Linked DNA regions of Homo sapiens. The protein of the gene in region 1 interacts with the protein of each later gene in a pairwise test. Each region holds a gene or a part of one and is shown on either strand. Other genes may lie near its edges. The genes, in order: LPIN1 and GTF2B.

Region 1 (3,823 bases):
TAAGTAGTAGATTGGGTATAGAAGAACCCTTGAAATGACTGCCTTTTCTGGTTGCTGTCATCTGAAAGCCCTATCCGAGAACCATATGTAGAGTCAGATTCTCATCCCAGAAGCAGTAGCCTGGTGAAGAGCCACTTGCCCACATCTAAAGGCAAGGGGATTACAAATTATCTTATGGCTTCCAGGGTTCTTTGAAGGTTGGCGGGTGGGTCAAAGCTTGAGATATGGGACTTAAAACTCCAAATTTCAAATTACTCATTAAAGCAGTAAAGCAAGAACATTTAATCGGATTAGTTTCTTTCTACCAGAAGGGAACCGCAAAATCAGTCCTAACCATAATGGCGAATTCAGCATCTCACGTTTTAAGTGTCTAGTGTTGTCTCGTATCATGAAAGAAGCGCTTTGAGATTTTGCATGTATTGCCCGCATTTACTGGAAAGCTAAGTATTCTAGAGAATGTAGTTGGGTACTAACTGCTCCATCAGAAAGTCCTACTTTTGAAAGTTACGAGAGATTTTCATGAAGTAGGAATATGGGTCAAAGAATAACCTGAAGGAATGTTAGAATTGCGGGGACGTGGTAGGTTGTCTTTTCTTCAACTCAGTCCTTGAACAGATGAGGGAATTGAGGCCCAGAGAGCAAAACTAATTGAATAGTTTCCCATCAAAGGATATTCTTTCACTGCACCACTTTGAGGTAGAGCTCTGGTTAATGAAAATTTGATATCTCATCAAATCAGAAATACCATGGACTTGTTTTTACAATGAACTCTTTTCTAATGAACACTTTAAATCACCTTTACCAAATATAGGATGTGTATTCATACAAGCAAGTAGGAGTGTCTTTGAATAGAATATTTACCGTCAACCCTAAAGGAGAGCTGGTACAGGAACATGCAAAGACCAACATCTCTTCGTGAGTATTGTACACATTTTATGTGATTATGATATCAGTACTATTATCTTAAAACGGTGCTTCCCAGTTTGCGGTGTACCTTTTCCCCTTTGCTGCCTATATGTTAATCTGTAATTCTTATAATGAAAAAATGTATTTTAACTCCTTGTATTTTGTCCAAAACATAATTTTTAGACAACTGGAATTAAATCAGATCCCTTCTGGGTCTAAAATTTAAACTCGTGGTTAGAGTCTGCTACAGAATGGAATTGAATGAATTTGAAAACTAGTAGTTTAGATTTGCCAAGTTAGGTTTGAAAGCCTAGAATGTGAATGAGAAATATAACCAAACTGAAATATGTGAAGTTATATTTAAAGATGAGGAACTGTATATCTCTTCACATACCAAATGTTTCTTACCAGAGACATTGCTGTGTAATTGTTAAGAATTCCCTTCATATTTTTGGTCAAAGCCCAGTTTTTCTGAGTCGGTGGGCTAAATGGGATTACTCTTTCTAATGAGGCATCCTTGTGTGCTTAGAATCACTCTTGACTTTATCCTGTCCCCCTCGGGTTCCTAACTTATTAGGATGGAGAGCATTTCCTCATTCCATGTTGTTGGGAGGTTGGCCCACTGGGTGACATCAGCCCAGGCCGACCCTTGTCTTCCTGCCTTGTCCATTTCAGAGACTACACCTCTTCTGGTCTGGTCTGTGCAGACCTGGAAAAGAGCCTCTGGCAGGCCAGGCACGGTGGCTCATGCCTGTAATCCCAGCACTTTGGGAGGCTGAGGTGGGTGGATCACCTGAGGTCAGGAGTTCGAGACCAGCCTGACCAACATGGAGAAACCCCGTCTCTCCTAAAAATAGAAAAATTAGCCAGGTGTGGTGGTGCATGCCTGTAATCCCAGCTACTCAGGAGGCTGAGACAGGAGAATCACTTGAACTCGGGAGGCAGAGGTTGCTGTGAGCCCAGATCGTGCCATTGCACTCCAGCCTGGGCGACAGAGCTAGACTCTGTCTCAAAAAACAAAAGAGCCTCTGGCCTTAGTGGCCCCAGATAGCCCGAGGGGTTCCTCTTTATCTGGAGGAGTTAGACTGGGGGAGTTTGGTTCTAGGAGATTCCTAAGGATTGGTTTTCTCCATGTAGCTTCTGTGGTTTTAGATAGAGAGATAAGTTCTCTCTAGGGCAGATTTTTACTTTCAAGATGGTCCTTAAACTAGTTGGATTCTAACTGAGTGTCAATAGGGCAGTTCTAGGCTAACAGGAGTCCTGGGGCTGCCCCACAAGACTCCTCTCACCCTGCAGTCATGCCAGTACCCAAGCAGTCCTCAAGGTTTGTGCAGAGAGAGGGGAGGCTGGAGCCAAGGCCCTGTTCCCTCCTGCAGAAGGCGAGGCAGTGCCAGGCTGCTTCCTGATTGGCAGAAAAACAGCAGGAACTTGATTCCTTTCTTAACCCTTCCTTGCGGTTTCTGCCACCTCCACTGTTCTAAGTGGCTGACTGTGACAATGTCTCGTTCCCACTCCCCTCTCATTCCCCAGGCTGGAGAGGACCTACTGGGTTTCTATTTAGGATCTGTGTTATAGTCTGTTTTCATGCTGTTAATAAAGACATGGACCCAAGGCTGGGTAATTTATACAGGAGAAAGGATTTAGGCTGGGCACGATGGCTCATGCCTATAATCCCAGCACTTTGGGAGGCCGAGGTGGGTGGATCACCTGAGGTCAGGAGTTCAAGACCAGCCTGACCAACATGGTGAAACCCTGTCTCTACTAGAAATGCCAAAAAAAAAAAAAAAAAAAAAAAATTAGCCAGGCATGGCAGCTTGCACCTGTAATCCAACTACTTGGAAGGCTAAGGCAGAAGAATCACTTGAACCCAGGAGACGGAGGTTGCAGTGAGCCAAGATCATGCCACTGCCCTCCAGCCTGGGTGACAGAGTGAGACTCCATCTAAAAAAAAAAAAATTAAAAAAAAAAGGGGAGACCTCACAATCATGGTCAAAGGAGGCAAGGAGGATCAAGTCATGTCTTACATGGATGGCAGCAGGCAGAAAGAGAGCTCGTGCAGGGAAACTCCCCCTTATAAAACCATCAGATCTCATGCGACTTTATCACAGGGACAGCATGGGAAAGACCTGCCTCCATGATTCAGTTAACTTCCACTGAGTCCCTCCCACAACACGTGGGAATTCAAGATGAGATTTGGGTGGGGACACAGCCAAACCATATCAGGATCAAAAAGAACTTTGAACCAATGAGACGCTGTCCAGGAATGGGAAAGTGGCAGGTCTTGCCATGCACGCATGGAAAGAGGGACTCCAGCATCTGAGAGGGTTTGGCTAGGTGGCCTCTGCGGTCATTGCATTGACTGAGGCTCTAGGGTTAAAATGCACACCTCGCCCATGGCTTGGCCTAGGGTGGAGCTCTGCAGACTTTACTCATTGCCAGGGGATGTTGACATTTTACACCTGGACTGGAGGCGGGGTTGTTCCTGTGAGAGAGTAAATCTCCTCCCCCAGGAAGCTCACATTTCTCTGGCGCTGAACTTGGTATAGCTATTTCTGAGCCAAGTAGATGCTTGTCATTCAGAACTGGGACAGTCATCTGAAATGTCTTCAGAGGCTGGGGCCACACAGCGGGAGCAGCTCAGTTCTTTTTCCCTTTCGTTTGCGAGTGTCTGTGCGTAAGCTCTGCCTGCTTGGGAGGAGCACTGTGTGTGGAGGTCGGTCTGGGGGAGGCGCGCAGATGGAACTCGGCCTGGCCGCTCAGGGAGTGTGAGAGTGGGTTTGGTTCCAGTGCACCGCGGCCTTGTAGTCAAGCCTGCAGGGAGGGGCCCTGCTGCCGCAGCCACAAACCTCAGACAAATAAGCCTTAAAGCCGGGAGGTATTTTAAAAATCTGTCTGTTTGTTTGAATCCCAAGGAAAG
Region 2 (3,823 bases), on another chromosome or scaffold:
CCTCCTCTTTTACTAATTTGTAATTACTGTTACTCTGCTAACATTTTCCTTTATTTCAACATGGTTTTTCATAATTTATATCAACTGTTTAATTTTATTTGTCATAATTTATTAAAATACTTTCCTTAGAGGAATTTATGGAATAAACACAAATATGAAGTAATACTCATCCCCCCGTGTTCCCAATGAGAAGATTCAAGACATATTCTAGTTAAGCTGACTAGATAAGTTTAGGGGGGAATATGGATTATTTTATCAGTTTTCCCGTAGATATCACCTTCTGAGTTGAGAGTTAACATTCTGAATTGTATTTGCTAGCATGAGAAACTTTACCCCAAACCACAAATACTATTTACATACTATAAGAACAGTTGATTTTGTCTTTTACGTGTATCTGATGTCCATAACCTAACCATTTATTGTATTTCAGATGGTTTTTAAAAGGGCCTTATTTGCAGTGATACCAAGAATTTATGATTGTGAGGTCATACCCCCTGAAATAATGATCAAATCTTTGTTGCTTTTACAGCTGATTCTGTCAGATCATTTAAGATTAATGTGTCAAAAAAAGATGAATGTGTCTTCTGCAAACTGCTTTGTTGTTCAAAATAAATTGAGCTAATTATTAATATCACAGATAACAAGTAGCTTTTGAAACAATTTCTTGAATGATAAATTCAATAACTCAATTCTGGACTAAAGGAAATCATCAAGTCTTAAGTTCAGCAGAGCAACTTCTACCATCCCTCATTTCTATACTTACTGGGTTCAGTGTACTATTTAAATCTGTTACTAAAGTAGTTAACAAGTAGAAAAATACAGAGAGAAATTGTTCTCTGACTAGAGAAATAAGTGGCAAAGAGCACAAACTGGATGGTAATGTAAATGCTGCAGGTTATTACGGTAACTAGTCATTACTATACTAATCAACATTTCTAAAAGTCTTACTGGCATACATATTGAGAGAAGAAACAATTATTTTCTATTTATGTTTTGAAAGCCTTCCACAATAAAATAAGAATTCCAGTGGAAACTACTTGCCAGTTACTAGCTGGAATTTAAAATAACCTAACTGGGATGTTTACTTTGAAAATCTAGCTTATATGTGTTACAGTTGTATGTATGAAAAAACGTTCACAATCTTTGTCTTCCCCATCCCCCATCCCAGAAGATTAATTTGATACATGTTGGTTGGGAAGATGTAAAAATACAACTTTTTTCTTTTAGTTTGGATGCTCTTCCAAGAGTCACATGTCCAAACCATCCAGATGCGATTTTAGTGGAGGACTACAGAGCCGGTGATATGATCTGTCCTGAATGTGGCTTGGTTGTAGGTGAGTTGTTATTATGGTTTTAATTTAAATTACTGTTCAGGAGGCCAAGCATGGTGGCTCACGCCTGTAATTCCAGCACTTCGGGAGGCCAAGGTGGGAGGATCACCTGAGGTCAGGAGTTCGAGACCAGCCTGACCAACATGAAGAAACCCCATCTCTACTGAAAATACAAAAACTAGCCGGGCGTAGTGGTGGGCACCTGTAATCCCAACTGCCCAGGAGGCTGAGGTAGGAGAATGGCTTGAACCCAGGAGGCGGAGGTTGCAGTGAGCCGAGATCGTGCCACTGCACTCTAGCCCGAGCAACAGAGCAAGACTCCGTCTCAAAAAAAAAATAATAATAATAATAATGTTTAGGGTCCTTCACTTTTGCATAGTTTCCAAACTATCATTTAATGAACACATTTTTGACTTTCTTCCCCAACAAATAATTTATTGCAAAAAAACAATTAGGAAACAGAAACGAGTAAACTTATTCAGAGATATATTTTATTGTATATCCAAATGTATATTTTTATAATGTGGGGTGGGAGCTAATCCAGAAGAAACGAAAAGGCCCCAGTAATTTCATAAGTCCTTAGTCTGAAATATTTGGTAGAGGACTGGAGAGATGGGCTGACACTCATGCATATTAAATAATGAATACATGTAATCAAACTTTTGTGGCTTTTTTATACATTGGGAAGTAGATAAACATGATTTTTGAGTCCCACTTAAAGCCTTTTAGTCAAAAAGAAGATTTATTATAACTTTTATACAGTCATCTATTGATGAATATCTTGTATAAAATTATTGCCAAAAATAACACTTAAAGTTTCACCTTGTTCCTACTTGCACACTAATCTAGATATGCAGCAGAACTTTAGACTACAGATAGTCTGTTCAAAAATTATTCTTGTGGTGGAGTTGTAGCATCTGAGAATAGGGGTAATATTTAGCAGTTTGAATTACTTAAGAATGAAAATTCTAGAAGGATTGTGGGCAGTATAACAGAAGCATTAGTAGTGGCATACTGTGGACTTGACTTACTTGGTCCAAGAAGGCTGCTTGCCTCAGACCTATAGTGGGAGTTTTAAAGTATAGAGTTGCTAATAGGAATTGAGAATCATTTGCAACCGTATTCTGCTGAGTAAGGAATATTAATAGCTAATATGTTTACTATATACTAGGCACTATTCTAAATGATTTACATATTCACTCAGTTTATCCTCACAACAAACCTGTGAGGTGAGTACTACCATTATCTTCATTTTACAGATAAGGAAACTGACGTTTAGGTAGTCTAGAAGACTGGCTCCATTGTCTGCGTGGGAGGCAGATTTCTATCTTGTATTGCCTTTCATAATAATAAAATTTTAATCTGGGGTCGTCAAAGTACAACCTATATATGGCCTATTTGTTAATTCTGGCTTTTACATTTTTAAATGGTTAAAAAAAATCAAAAATAATATTTTAGGACATGTGAAAATACAAATTTCAGTATCTATAAAGTTTTTCTTCGTTTGTTTTTTGAGACGGAGTTTTGCTCTTGTTGCCCAGGCTGGAGTGCAATGGCGTGATCTCGGTTCACCACAACCTCCGCCTCCCGGGTTCAAGTGATTCTCCTGCCTCAGCCTCCCAAGTAGCTGGGATTACAGGCATGTGCCACCATGCCCAGCTAATTTTGTATTTTTTTTAGTAGAGACGGTGTTTCTCCACATTGGTCAGGCTGGTCTCGAACTCCTGACCTCAGGTGATACGATCGCCTTGGCCTCCCAAAGTGCTGGGATTACAGGCGTGAGCCACTGCGCCTGGCCAAAGTTTTTTTTTTGATACAGAGTTTCGCTCTTGTTGCCCTTTTGTTGCCCAGGCTGGAGTGCCGTGGTGCGATCCCAGCTCACTGCAACCTCTGCCTTCCAGTTTCAAGTGATTCTCCTGCCTCAGCCTCCCGAATAGCTGGGATTACAGGGGCCCACTACTACACCTGGCTAACTTGTTGTATTTTTAGTAGAGACAGGGTTTCAGCATGTTGGCCAGGCTGGTCTTGAACTCCTGACCTCAGGTGATCCACCAGCCTCAGCCTCCCAAAGTGCTGGGATTACAGGTGTAAGCCACCATACCTGGCCTGGTATCTATAAAGTTTTAATGGAATATAGCAACACTCACTTGTTTACATAGTGTATATGACTCTTTTCACATTACAACAGCAGAGCTTAGTAGCTTCAACAGAAACCACATGTGCAGCTCTCATCACTTTTTTTCTGCTGCTCAGCATACTAATTGCAGTGATGCAGTTATAACAGCAACATGTTGATCGCCACATATGTTGCCATACTGCACTATTTTATTTATTTGTTTTTATTACCATTACATATCCATCACACCAAAACAAGAAAAGTTAACTTTGAATGTCATGCTTTTAAGGCATGGTGGAGTATGGATTATTTTGTCACTGAATTAGATGGCAAAACATTGTGTTTATTACACAATGATACTGTAGCTGTGTTAAAA

The links.
Region 2: the proteins of LPIN1 (region 1) and GTF2B interact in binary tests that used the Homo sapiens proteins (3 or more experiments, as listed by UniProt).

What each region holds. Positions count from the first base shown.
Region 1 is NC_000002.12:11,819,600-11,823,422, forward strand, and holds part of LPIN1 (phosphatidate phosphatase LPIN1), read left to right. Parts: exon of another isoform or gene 1-151; intron 152-811; coding exon 812-915; intron 916-3,823. UniProt on the Homo sapiens protein: Acts as a magnesium-dependent phosphatidate phosphatase enzyme which catalyzes the conversion of phosphatidic acid to diacylglycerol during triglyceride, phosphatidylcholine and phosphatidylethanolamine biosynthesis and therefore controls the metabolism of fatty acids at different levels.
Region 2 is NC_000001.11:88,884,772-88,888,594, reverse strand, and holds part of GTF2B (transcription initiation factor IIB), read left to right. Parts: intron 1-1,227; coding exon 1,228-1,334; intron 1,335-3,823. UniProt on the Homo sapiens protein: General transcription factor that plays a role in transcription initiation by RNA polymerase II (Pol II). Involved in the pre-initiation complex (PIC) formation and Pol II recruitment at promoter DNA.